Linked DNA regions of Homo sapiens. The protein of the gene in region 2 interacts with the protein of the main gene of each other region in a biochemical or structural test. Each region holds a gene or a part of one and is shown on either strand. Other genes may lie near its edges.

Evidence for each region. The genes of interacting proteins can lie anywhere in the genome.
Region 1: the proteins of MYPN (region 2) and MPP7 interact in a test that uses a peptide from one of them, tested with the Homo sapiens proteins (one large-scale study listed by IntAct).
Region 3: the proteins of MYPN (region 2) and YES1 interact in a surface display test, tested with the Homo sapiens proteins (one large-scale study listed by IntAct).
Region 4: the proteins of MYPN (region 2) and MAST2 interact in a test that uses a peptide from one of them, tested with the Homo sapiens proteins (one large-scale study listed by IntAct).

Annotation. Positions count from the first base shown.
Region 1 is NC_000010.11:28,296,565-28,300,064, forward strand, and holds part of MPP7 (MAGUK p55 subfamily member 7), read right to left. Parts: intron 1-3,500. UniProt on the Homo sapiens protein: Acts as an important adapter that promotes epithelial cell polarity and tight junction formation via its interaction with DLG1. Involved in the assembly of protein complexes at sites of cell-cell contact.
Region 2 is NC_000010.11:68,122,988-68,126,487, forward strand, and holds part of MYPN (myopalladin), read left to right. Parts: intron 1-3,500. UniProt on the Homo sapiens protein: Component of the sarcomere that tethers together nebulin (skeletal muscle) and nebulette (cardiac muscle) to alpha-actinin, at the Z lines.
Region 3 is NC_000018.10:802,243-805,742, forward strand, and holds part of YES1 (tyrosine-protein kinase Yes), read right to left. Parts: intron 1-3,500. UniProt on the Homo sapiens protein: Non-receptor protein tyrosine kinase that is involved in the regulation of cell growth and survival, apoptosis, cell-cell adhesion, cytoskeleton remodeling, and differentiation.
Region 4 is NC_000001.11:46,023,612-46,027,111, reverse strand, and holds part of MAST2 (microtubule-associated serine/threonine-protein kinase 2), read right to left. Parts: intron 3,341-3,500; coding exon 3,132-3,340; intron 1,436-3,131; coding exon 1,297-1,435; intron 1-1,296. UniProt on the Homo sapiens protein: Appears to link the dystrophin/utrophin network with microtubule filaments via the syntrophins. Phosphorylation of DMD or UTRN may modulate their affinities for associated proteins. Functions in a multi-protein complex in spermatid maturation.

The DNA of each region.
Region 1 (3,500 bases), about 40 Mb from region 2:
ATCGCAACTGCTATGTATTTTCATCTCCCTTCTCTAACAATCAGTAACAAGCAACCCAATCAGTAATAAACAAGCCTGACAAATAGCTCCTAAATTCACAGAGAAAAGAATGGTCTCCTCTCTTTCATAAGTAAAGCAAGCTGATAATGTTCTAGTAAATAGAAAGACTAAATGCCTCTTCAAGAAAAAAACATTTATATGCCTGGAAAAAACATCTTGGGTTTTTTTGTTTTTGTTTTTTTACTTAAGTATCTGTTCATAGTAGGTAGCAAATAATCTTTCCACACATATGCACTTTACCAGTTCTTTTAAAGACTCAGTAATCTAAGAAAGCAAAGCATAAGACTATGCTGAAAGAGCTAAGCCGCAGTTTACATAAAATTTAAACAAAACACAAGACATTAAAAAAATTCAACTACTCATAAATAAAGACCAATAAATCTACACTTTGGTCTGGGTTTCTGAACACAGGAAGAATCAGAGGGTTCAATAGGAGAGGTTATTTCTGAAATCGTAGGCATACCTTGAAGATATCACATGTTCCATTCCAGACCACCTTAGTAAAACTAACACTGCAATAAGGTAACAGAAATGTTTCTGCTTTCCAAGTGCATATAGAAGTTATATTTACAGTATACTGTAGTCTATTATGTTGGCAATAGCATTAGCTCTTAATTTTAAAATGCTTTATAATTTTTTTAAAATGCTAGTGATCATCCGAGCCTTCAGGGAGTCATAATCTTTTTGCTGGTGGAGGATTTTGCCTTGATGTTGATGGCTGCTGACTGAACAAGGTGCTGGCTGCTGAAAGATGGATGGCTGTGGCAATTTCTTAAAATAAGAAAACAATAAGGCCGGGCGCTGTGGCTCACGCCTGTAATCCTAACACTTTGGGAGGCTGAGGTGGGTGGACTGCGTGAGCTCAGGAGTTCAAGACCAGCCTGGTCAACAGAGTGAAACCCCATCTCTACTAAAATATAAAAAATTAGCCAGCTGTGGCAGTGTGCACCTGTAATCCCAGCTACTCAGGAGGCTGAGACAGGAGAATCTCTTAAACCTGGGAGGCGGAGGTTGCAGTGAGCCAAGATCGTGCCATTGCACTCCAGCCTGGGCAACAGAGCGAGACTCCGTCTCAAAAAAATAAAAAAAATGAAGTTTGCCACATCAACTCACTCTGCCTTTCAGAAAAGATCTCTCTTTTGGTAGCATTTCACCCACAGTAGAACCTCATTCACAATTGAAGTCAATCCTATCATACCCTGCCACTGCTTTATTAACCAAGTTTACAGAATATTGTAAATCGTTCATTGTCATTTCAACAATGCTCACAGCATCTTCACCAAGAATAGACTCTCTCTCAAGAAGCCACTTTCTTTGCTCATTCAGAAGAAGCAACTCTTCATCCATTCGAGTTTGATAATAAGATTGCAGCAATTCAGTCATATTTTCAGGGTCTACTTCTAATTCTAGTTCTCAGTATACTATTTCCACCACATCTGCAGGTACTTCTTCCACTGAAGTCTTGAACCCCTCAAAGTCATCCATGAGAGCTGGAATCAACTTCTTCTAAATTCCTGTTAATGGTGACATTTTGACCTCCTCCTTTGAATCACAAATGCCCTTAATGGCATCTAGAATTGTGAATCCTTTCCAGGTTTTCAATTTACTTAGCCAAGATCCATCAGAACAATCACTATCTATGGCAGCTATAGCTTTACAAGATGTGCTTCTTAAATAATAACTCTTGAAAGTTGAAATGACTCCTAGATCCATGGGTACAGAGTGGATGTTGTGTTAGCAGGTATGAAAACATTAATTTCCTTGTACATCTCCATCAGAGCTCTTGGGTGACCAGGTGCATTGTCAATGAGCAGCACTTGTTCAATGGTACCCTTTCTTCTGAGCAGTGGGTCTCGACAGTGAGCTTAACAGATTCAGTAAACCACGCCATAAACAGATGTACTGTCATCCAGGCTTTGTCGCTCCATTTATAGAGCACAGGCAGAGTAGATTTTGCATGACGCTTAACAATTTTTGGAATGGTAGATGAGCAGTGGCTTCAACTTAAAGTCACCAGCTGCACTAGCTCCAAACAAAAGAGTCAGCCTGGCCTTTGAGGTGAAGCACTGACTTCCTTCTAGCTAAGAAAGTCCGAGACGGCATCTTCTTCCAATATAAGGCTGTTTCATCTACACTGAAAATCTGTTGTTCAGTGTAGCCACCTTCATCAGTGATCTTAGCTAGATATTCTGGATAACATGCTACAGCTTCTATATCAGCATTTGCTGCTTCACCTTGCACTTTTACATTAGGGAAGCAGCTTCTTTCCTTAAACCTCATGAACCAACCTCTTCTAGCTTCCAACTTTTCTTCTGTAACTTCCTTACCTCTCTCAGCCTTCATCGAATTGAAGAGAGGGTTTTGCTCTGCTGGCTTAAGGGAATGTTGTGGCTGGTCTGATCTTCTATCCAGACCACTAAAACCTTCTCTATATTAGCAATAAGGCTGTTTCACTTTCTTATCATTTGGACGTTCAGCAGAGTAGCACTTTTAGTTTCTTTCAAGAACCTTTCCTTTGCATTCAGAGCTCGCTTGTTTGGTGCAAGAGGCCTAGCTTTTGGCCTGTTTCAGCTTTTGTCATGACCTCCTCACTAAGCTCACTCATTTGTAGCTTTTTGATTTAAAGTGGGAGACACGCGACTCTCCATTCACTTGAATACTTAGATGCCAATGTAGAGTTATTAATTGGCCTAATTTCAATATTGTTGTGTCTCAGGGAATAGGGAGGCCTGGGGAGAGGAAGAGAGTTGGGGAATGGCCAGTTGGTGGAGATATCAGAACATATGTAACATTTATCAGTTAAGTTCACCATATTATATAGGTGCAGTTCATGGAGCCCCAAAACAATTAGAATCGTAACATCAAAGATCACTGACCAGAGATCACCATAACAGACAGAATAACAATGAAAAGTTTGCAATATTGTGAGAATTACCAAAATATGACAGAGACACACAAAATGAACATACACTATTGGAAAAATAGCACCAATCGACTTGCAGGGTTGCCAACGAACCTTCAGTTTGTAAAAAACACAGTATCTTCAGAGAGCAAGCCTGACTAACAATTTCCTTCACTTTAAATTCAAAATGAAGGAATACCCTTTCCTTCCGAATGTATCTCATTTAACAAAATTCAAGACTTTTTTTTTTTTTTTTTGAGACGGAGTCTCGCTCTGTGGCCCAGGCTGGAGTGCAGTGGCACGATCTCAGCTTACTGCAAGCTCTGCCTCTTGGGTTCAGGCCAATTCTCCTGCCTCAGCCTCCCGAGTAGCTGGGATTACAGGCGCCCACCACCACGCCCGGCTAATTTTTTCTATTTTTTAGTAGAGACAGGGTTTCACCGTGTTAGCCAGGATGGTCTCAATCTCCTGACCTTGTGATCCGCCCGCCTCGGCCTCCCAAAGTGCTGGGATTACAGGCGTGAGCCACCATGCCTGG
Region 2 (3,500 bases):
ATTATTTTTATTATACCAGGGATTTGAAACTCGGCGTGAATTCTACACTGACAGCATATTTCAATTTGGATGTTAAATTTTCCTAGGGAATACAACCTTCATTTTGGCCGGGCGCAGTGGCTCCAGCGTATAATCCCAGCACTTTGGGAGGCCGAGGCAGGCAGATCACTTGAGGTCAGGAGTTCAAGACCAGCCTGGCCAACAGGGCGAAACCCCATCTCTACTAAAAATACAAAAAAATTTAGCCGGGCGTGGTAACAGGCATCTGTAATGCCAACTATTCAGGTGGCTTAGGCAGAGAGAATTTCTTGAACTTGGGAGGCAGAGGTTGTAGTGAGCCGAGATCGCACCACTGCACTCCAGCCTGGGCTACAGAGCGGAGGCTCCATCTCAAAATGAGTAAATTAGGCCTGGCGCAGTGGCTCACGCCTGCAATCCCAGCACTTTGGGAGGCTGAGGCGGGCGGATCACGAGGTCAGGAGATCGAGACCATCCTGGCTAAAAAGGTGAAACCCGGTCTCTACTAAAAATACAAAAAAAAAAAAAAAATTAGCCAAGCATGGTGGCGGGCGCCTGTAGTCCCAGCTACTTGAGAGGCTGAGGCAGGAGACTGGCGTGAACCCGGGAGGCGGAACTTGCTGTAAGCCGAGCTTGCACCACTGCACTCCAGCCTGGGCGACAGAGCGAGACTCCTTCAATAAATAAATAAATAAATAAATAAATAAATAAATAAATAAGTATAATTAAAAATTCAGTTATTTAGTTGCACGAGCCACATTTCAAGTGCCCAGTAACTGCATGTGTCTAATGACTACAGTATTGGACAGCGCAGGGCTACAATTTATAGCCTAAAAAAGGTCTCTATGCAATGAATACCTGCAGTATTTTTTTAAACTTTAAAGAAACCCAAATAATAGCATAAAAACCTATAGAATTGGGCTGAGGCTAAAGTCAATTTAAAGATTCATTATACATGTATTAAATGTATTATACACTTTCCATGTCAGCTTCATGAAAGCTATGACTGATGGATAGAGAGGTTATTCATCTTTTATTTGCCTACCATGGTCAGCTTTTCTGTGAGGCAAATGCAGTGCAAGTTTCAGGACGCCTCACTTGACTAGGCTATACCTAATTTTGCATTCTAAGTTTATTTTACTTTTTAAAGGAGCCCTTCCACATTTATGAGCTTCAGGTCCCACAAAACCTGGAACCAGCGTTAGCCCCTAGGGTAACATGTCCTACTTTTGATTTTATAATGGAATAACATGTGAAAAATGTGGTTGAAGTGGATTACTTTTGTAGAGAATTCCTGGTATTTAGAGTCCTACAAGAGTTACTTTGTGTTTGTAACTACCTGATTATTACTAGAATATGATTTCATTACTATTTAACATTTATTCTCTGTATGTAAATAGGGCATCTGGGCATCATCTTTTTATTCCATAATATTCAATTATAGGACAATAGTAGTATTAATAATAGCATTTTTGTTTATATATAGGCATATTAATTCAAGGGATTCTGGCCCAAAGACATATTCATATATTGATTTTTGCTTTTCAAAGGCGACATAAGGCAATGCCAAATATTATTTCTACAGTGGCAGATACATTTGACTATTAGGTTATCCTGCTGACCTCCTTGAGGGCAGGGATTCTGTTGTTTTTACCTTTGTGTCTTGAGCACTGAGCACAGCTTTGGGCTCATGGTAGCCACTCAGAAATGTTGAATGAGCTAGTGGATAAAGAAACAGGAAAACAAGAAACTCAACTTAGATTTAAATCAGAAGTGAGACCGTTGGCCTAAGATGTAGCAAAGGGTTGGAACTGAAAAACACAGGGCGGTGTCTACTCTTCTGCTCTGAACGTGCCTGATGATACTCCCTGGGACTCTGGTTGGTAATGCTAGTGAGATGTCACTACAGCCCCATGACAGCTACTACTCAGCAGCATCTGGTCAGTCTAAGTAAGCTGGTGAGCACTCCAGTTGTGATATACACAAAACTTAGGTTAGTCCTGTCCAATCCATTAGTTTCTGGACATAGATTGATTAAAACAAAAATTAGACCAGATCATTCAGGTCTCATCCTACTCATTTTTCAACCATGACAATCTCAGATACAAGAATGAATTCAATGCACCACTAAGAAATGTCAATTAGGAAGACATTCCCCACAAAGCAAAGTAATCTGGTGGCCACTCAGAAACCATTTAATCAGCCAACTAAAAATTTGCAAATCTTCAAATTTAAAAGTGAAAGAAATGTACACAGTTTCCATGTAGCAATGCTAATTTTTCCTGGGAAGAATTTCTTTACTGACAGCAATCATGCCTGTATCCTAACCACTGGTTGGATGCTAGGAAATTAGTAGGTATATGCTAAATATTTTCTGAATGAGTTAGTACTTAATTTTATGACTGCAATTAGATTAAGAATAGAATTAGAATTGTCCGAGTAGACTATTAGCTGCCATTTTCCTAAGCACAGAATTTATATAACTCCAATCAGAAAGCAAATATGTATTTATTTAGTTAGTTTTTACTGTGTGTTCGGCACAGTGATCAATGCAATGACAGACACAATATAAATATGCATCCCTGCCTTCAAGGAGCTTGCAATACAGTTAAAGAAATAATCCTAATTTTTATAGTACAAACTTTAAGTAGTGTCAGGTGTCAGAGAAGGAGTGAAGGACTAGAAAAGTCAAAGAAGTCTTCAGAGATGTAGGAGGATTTTACTTGAACTTTGAATAGTGAAAATTTAGGTAGAAAGTTTCTTATTTACTCATTCAACAAATATCAATTGAGTTACTAAAGTGATTCACTGGGAGTACAAAACAATTGTGAGCTAGTGGAGGTCATAAATCTTGTTTTGAAACCAAATCTAAACTCTTCTGAGAGGGTGGCTCACAATCTAATAGCTAGGAATCAGGCAGACAGCAAACAAATCAATCACTGCAGTATTATGTAATAAGGGCTATGACAGGAGTCTGTAGAGGAGGCAGTGGTGGCTTAAAAGAGTATATGAGTTGCTTGGCCTGGAGTGCATGATAAAGGAAGTGTTAACACAGGAGGTAGAGGAGGCCAAGGGTAGAGGGGAAAGCAAGTGCAAAGCTCCCGAGGCAAGTGTTATCAGGGAACCATAAGTACTCATCTATGTCAAGAACATAGGGTAAAGGTAAGAAAGATTAGAGATAAGGTTGAAGAGGTAGGTGGAAGGAATGGGTCCTTTCAGGCCAGGTCACTTCAGCATGTTTATGGAAAGGCACAGACGCTCTAATTATAATAATATTTTTTATATAGCAGAGAGGACACTGACCAAACTGGAAAGGAGAGTAGAGTCAGATGACTTCGAAGAACCTTGAAAGCAAAGCAGAGTAGTTCAGACTTGGTTTCAAAACAAACTGGAAACCATTTAAGGTTATGTATAGGGAAGTAACAAGATGAAAGGGAGGATTTAAGGATAATTAATCTGCAAGAATAAGTCACACCTGGAAA
Region 3 (3,500 bases), on a different chromosome or scaffold from region 2:
ATCTCTCTTAAAAAAGAAAGAAAATAAAATAATTAGAAAGTATTGCCAGGCGTGGTGGCTCATGCCTGTAATCCCAGCACTCTGGGAGGCCAAGGCAGGTGGATCACCTGAGGTCGGGAGTTCCAGACCAGCCTGACTAAAAATACAAAAAATTAGCCAGGCAAGGTGGTGCACGCTTGTAATCCCAGCTACTCAGGAGGCTGAGGCAGAAGAATCGCTTGAACCTGGGAGGCAGAGGTTGCAGTGAGCGGAGACCACACTATTGCACCCCAGCCTGGGCAACAAGAGTGAAACTCCATCTCAAAAAAAAAAAAAAAAAGTATTAATTGAACATTCTCTGCCAGCAATTCAAATGTACTATTTAATGAAGAAGAAAAAAGACAAGAAATCTCCCTTTCCATCATTGCTCCTCATTCCTAAGAAAGTTATGGCATATGGAACAGGCTTGTAGTCAGCCCTAGGTTTAAATCCCAGTTCTGCCGGTTGTGTGACCTTAGCAAATTATATATACTTTCTGATTCTCAGTTTCTTTATCTGTAATAAATACCTACCTCAAGGGGCCCAGCACAGTGGCTCACACCTATAATCCTAGCACTTCGGGAGGTTGAGGCAAGTGGATCGCTTGAGCCCAGGAGTTCGAGACAGCCTGGGCAACAAGGTGAAACCCTGTCTCTATTCTAAAAAAAAATAAAAATAAAAAACAGGCTGGGCATGGTGGCTCACACCTGTTTTCCCAGCACTTTGGGAGGCCGAGGCGGGAGGATCCCTTGAGCCTAGGGGGTTTAAGATCAGTCTGAGCAACATGGTGAGAAATTTTGAATTTTAAAAATTAAAAAAAAAATTAGCTGGGCATGGTGGCTCACAACTGTGGTCCCAGCAGCTACTCAGAGACCAAGGTGGGAGGATCACTTGAACCTGGGAGGCAGAAGTTGCAGTGAGCCAAGGTTTTGCCACTTCATTCCAGCCTGGGTGTCAGAGTGAGACTCCGTCTCAAAAACAAAAAATAAATACCCATCTCATTCCTAATTTTTCTGTGTATTTTGGAAACACATTTCAAAGATTCAAGTCAAATGTGATAATGCATATAAAAGTATGGCATAGCACCTATCATAGGACAGGCTTTCTTCTTTCCCTACCCAATGCCAAAGTGAGGTGAATGGGTGGGAAATAAAAAAAGCACAGAGAAGGTAAAGAAGTTACAAACTCCATATTGTAACACTCCTCATTTTCCCAAACCCTTTTCTACTATTTTTGTTTATTACCCCCAATCTTTTGAAGCTTTTCTATACCTCATACTGTCCTATAGGGTTAGAGTATGAGGCAGGTTTCACTGCCACTAGCAAGCAGGTGGGGAAACCTAGGGAAGTTTCTGTACTTAAATTAAGCTTAATAGCAATGCCTTATTGGGAGAATCTGAGTCTCCTAACAGGGAACTCAAAACAGTGATTTTTAAATAGTGAGGAGCTGGTAAGGTGGGAAAGGAGGGTGACTGGCAAGGCTACAGGTTCACCCACCTCATAATCAGAGCACTTGTAGGCCAAATATTTTATTTGTTCAAAGAGCTCAGCAGTTAACAAAAACCAGGCAAAAACTGATAATCAGTCAGAAAATATTTTACCACCAAAGTATTATTTTACCTATTTGTGAGGCTTTTATAAGACTCCAACGGGCTGCCTAGAAATCAGGCCAAAAGGCTTATGTTACAGAAAAGACTTCCTGGAAAAACAGATTCTAATTTTCAAAACATCAACTTACAAACTTTCAGAACACTGTAATTTTAGTTTCTTTGTTTTAGAAAATCTATTTTACAAACCTTAAAAGGCTAACCATTTTCCAATGCCATGCTTGTCTTGTTCTAAATATTAACTGTATGTGTATAAAGACAAATATCCAGAACAAGTTGTCCATACCTTTGTCAATTAAAAAAATTAAATGTAAATTTTGATGATAGTGGCTATTTTTCTCATATAATGTTGCAAAGTTTTTATTCAAATAGCCACGATTACTTGTTAACTGACATCATAACTATCCACTTCAACAGAATAATTAAGTCATTTTTCTAATTTTATTACGAAAAAATCTGGGCTAGGCACAGTGGCTCACGCCTGTAATCCCAATACTTTGGGAGGCCAAGGCAGGCAGATCACCTGAGGTCAGGAGTTCGAGACCAGCCTGGCCAACATGGTGAAACCCCCATCTCTACTAAAAATAAGAAAATTAGCTGGGTGTGGTGGCACACACCTGTAATCCCAGCTACTGAGGAGGCTGAGGCAGGGAGAATTGCTTGAACCCGGGAGGCAGAGGTTGCAGTGAGCCGAGATTGCACCACTGCACTCCAGCCTGGGCAATAGAGTGAGACTGAGTCTCAAAAAAAAAAAAAAAAAAAAAGGCCAGCTGAGGTGGCTCACACCTGTAAGCCTGGCACTTTGGGAGGCCAAGGCGGGCGGATCACCTGAGATAGGGAGTTGGAGACCAGCCTGACCAACATGGAGAAATCCCATTCTCTACTAAAAACACAAAAATTAGCCGGGTGTGGTGGCACACGCCTGTAATCCCAGCTACTTGGGAGGCTGAGGCAGGAGAATCACTTGAACCCAGGAGGCTGAGGTTGTAGTGAGCTGAGATCAAGCCACTGCACTCCAGCCTGGGCGACAGAGTGAGACTCTGACTCAAAAAAAAAAAACACAAACCAAAAACCTAGCATAGTAGTATAAATGTTTGCTTAATTAGTAGAACTGCAATTTGCTTGAGAAAGTTCCGTGTCAAGTCCATGGGTCAGTTTTTTATAATCTTTACTTATATCTAATGTGATTCCAAATTTTAGACTCAAACATTTCCTTAAAATTTTATCAATACGGTCATGCATCACTTAACATATATTCTGAGAAATGCCTCATTAGGCAATTCTGACATTATGTGAACACTCTAGAGTGTACTTACACAAACCTACGTGGTATAGCTGACTACAACCTTGGGCCATATAGTATGGCCTATTTCTCTCAGGCTACAAACCTGTACAGCACACAACTGTACAGAATACTGCAGGCAACTGTAACAGTATTTGTGTATTTAAACATAACTAAATGTAGAAGAGATACAGTAATTACACAGTATAAAAAAATAAAAAATGGTACACCTATATAGGGCAGCTCTACTATAATCTTACAGGATCACCATCATTGAAACTTCCTTAGGCAGAGCATGACTATATTGTAACAACTTCAACTGCGGCAGAGCACACATTTATATATAAAGCTGAGAAACTATTAGAAACCATGAGGCCCAACTACCTTTTGTTTCAAATTGCAAAACTAACGCCTAGGGAGTTTACTGAATCGACCAAGGCTAAACAGCTCTTCACTGTCAGAAATGAAACTAAAATCTAGATAGTGTTAGTGCTCTACCTTCCAGTCCTTTCCTTATAACACCATATTGCCTTCTCTGCTCCTTCCAAATGTCTGGCTGCTATTATTTTTAAAGTATCCTTATCTGTAAAATAT
Region 4 (3,500 bases), on a different chromosome or scaffold from region 2:
TGCCCATGTGTCTTACAGGCTCCAGAAACTCAACCTGTCCAAAACAAAGTCATGCCTCCCAACTGGTTCCCCTCCTCAGTGAAAAACAATAATTTTGGTTATCTGTTGAGCTCTGTGCTAAGTGCTTTAAAAATATTCTGGCCCCTGAAATGTTTTCTAGAGTAACACATCAAAGGTAGGTGTAATTATTCCCTATATTAGAAAGGAGGAACGTGAGGGTCAGGGAAACTTTAATTAGTAGACTCAAACTCAGACTTAATAAGCAGAAGAGTGGCCATTTGAATTCAGGTCTGTCTTATGTCAAAGCCACTTTCTTCCACAGAGGCTTATCACCCTGCACCAGTCCCAAGCTGGAAATCTGGAACACATCCCAGCCTCTTCTGTTCCCTCACTTCCCTTCCTACCCCCACCCCAGCCTGATCCTCTTTCCTTTATACTTCCCCACACTACCCCTCTTCTTTCTATCCTGACTCCCTGTTCTGCTGCAGGCATTGCTGTCTTTCCCTGGTCTCGGTATCTCTTTGGCAGTGGTCTCAGTGTCTCTTTTCACCGGCAGAGTGAGCTTTCTAAACCTGAACCATAATCTGGGCATGCCATTCTATCATATCTTTGGTTAGCAGACCCTTCCAAGACTCTCTAGGCCCCTTTAGAATAAAACCCAAATATAACAAAAGGGCCCTTGATGAACTAGTTCCTGCCTCTCTCTCTAGCCTTTTCTCTTACTACTCTCTCACCATCTAAGCTGTCGCCATATTGCACTATTTGTAGTTCCTGAACAAGTGCTGTTCTCTTGCACCTGTGTGACTCTGCACATTCTGCTCTCCTGCTTTAGAAAGCAGGTCTTCCTTTTTCCACTTGACTAATACCCTCTGAGAAGAAGCCTATATACATATATTTCTGTCTCCCACTGTAGACTTAAGTTCTACATGCCAGGGACTACATTTAAAAACCCACAATATAGTGCTGGCACAGAGTAGATGTCAGTAAACGTCAGGACACTTGTTTAGCCATCTACTAGATGTGCTTATTCTTTTGTTCTTGCTTGGTTTCTTCAGTGGGGCTCCTCAATGACTCTTCCATGTCACCGAAGCCTTATAGTGTTCCAGCCAGACCTTGAGGCAATGATCTGCATCTGGGGTGGTCGGGGGGCTAGAGAACTAGGCCCAGATGGACACACACAGGAGCATGTTTTCCCGGTAGCCATCTGGATAGATTTAGAGCTACTGTGCTTGCCAACATTTTATCTGGAGACCCAAGAGGGAGACCCTGGACAAGGGACACAGACTGTGGACATACTTGTCAGGCTTGAGGTCACGGTGCACGATGCCATAGTTGTGTAAGTACTCCAGGGCCAGCACAGTTTCCGCAAAGTATAGACGCACCATGTCCACAGGCAGGGCCCCAATATTCTTCAGCAGAGTGGCACAGTCTCCCCCTGCAACAAGCCCAGGCTACCATGAGGAAAGGATTCAGTTCCCTGCTCTAGCTAGCCAGCTCCCATCTGGCAGTTTCTGAGGTCCCAGAGGAGACAGCTTCATGGAATATCCTGGTGCTGGAGACTCTGATTCTAGCCCCTTTGCTGCTGGCATGGGTGGGAGACAGGGTGATATGGTTTGGCTGTGTCCCCACCCATAGCTCATCTTGAATTGCAGCTCCCATAATTCCCATGTGTTGTGGGAAGGGACCTGGAGGGAGATAACTGAATCATGGAAGTGGGTCTTTCCCATGCTATTCTCGTGATAGTGAATAAGTCTCATGAGATCTGATGGTTATTTTTATTTATTTATTTTTTTGAGGCAAAGTCTTGCTCTGTCACCCAGGCTAGAGTGCAGTGGTGTGATATCAGCTCACCGCAACCTCTGCCTCCCAGGTTCAAGCGATTCTCCTGCCTCAGCCTCCCGAGTAGCTGGGATCACAGGCGTGCACCACCACACCCAGCTAATTTTTGCATTTTTTGTAGAGACGGGGTTTCGCCATGTTGGTCAGGCTGGTCTCAAATTCCTGACCTCAGGTGATCCACCTGGCTCAGCCTCCCAAAGTGCTGGGATTACAGGCATGAGCCACCACGTCCGGCCCATCTGATGGTTTTATAAAGGGGAGCTTCCCTGCACAAGCTCTCTCTTGTCTGCTGCCATGTGAGACATGCCTTTCACCTTCTGCCATGATTGTGAGGCCTCCCCAGCCACATGGAACTGTAAGTCCACTAAACCTCTTTCTTTTGTAAATTGCCCAGTCTCTGGTATGCCTTTATTAGCAGCATGAAAATACACAGGGTATGGAGGGGGGTGGAAAGTAAAGTGAATCTGCTAATAGCTGTCATGGACATTTTTCAGGCCAGAGAGGGAAGGAACCCAGGCCTTTATTAAAAGTAATGGCAAACATGCAATTACTTTTGTACCAGCCTAATGTTTTTTAGGACAGGAATACTGCATACTGTAAACACATCTGGCTGAGATGTTAACATCTGTTCATGTTACTTCCTTCTTACTGGCTTTTAGTTTCTGAGTAAAGTAACACTATGAACTCCCAGCATGTACCCAGTAAACACTAAAGGACAGTTTTGTTCAGCTTCAGCTTCAAGACTAGGCACAGTATCTTTGGAGGCTGTACACACAGTGAGAAGGTGAGAGGGAAGGGAAACTGGCAAAGCTGCTGCCTCCCTCCAGAACTATGCCCCATGTTGCTCTTCTGTTCTATTCTCAGAGCATTTTGCTTGGTTTTAAGGGGTGTCCCCTTTGCAAGCCAGTCAGGGTAATTAATGGCTTTCCTTTCTTCTGAGGGTCCAGATGCAAACCTCCTAGCACCTAATCCTGGGCTTTTGTAGCTCTGCTGCCTCCTCTGTTGCTGTCTGATACCAGCAGTAGAGAGCGTGCAGGCTTTGGGGTGCAAGATTCTATAGCTGCTGGCCTGCTACATCCTATCCCAGAATGCCTCTCATGGTAGAGGCAGGGAGCTTTGTGCCCACTGTGGCCAAATGGTCTCTGTGATCCTGAGGCAGAAACCAATGCCAAAGGTGGACTGGAAAGCTGGGCCCTGAAACTTCACCTCTGTACAAAGCTGCTGGTCCCTGTTTAAGGCTAAGTCTCAGACTGTGCCTTGGCCTCCATGCCAGGCCACCTTTGCCTCAGTACCTTCAACGTACTCCATCACCATGCACAAGTGGCGCTTGGTATCAAAGGAGCAGAACATGCTGACCACAAAGGGGTTCTCAGCGAAAGTCAGTATGTCACGCTCCACGAAGGCCTGCTGGATCTGGTTCCGTAGGATCAGGTTCTGCTTGTTGATCTTCTTCATGGCAAAGCGCTGCCGGGTGGACTTGTGCCGCACCAGAAATACAGCCCTGGGAAACAAAGTCCGGCCCATCCCCCATGGACCCTCAGCACCTGAGCTGTGCTCTCTGCCACCCAAACTGCCTTCTCTCACACCTTAATTAATGCACAGAACAAGGGGGCAAGGGCATGCATATCAGTGAGAAGGGTCTGGGACCCCCTGGTCCATAG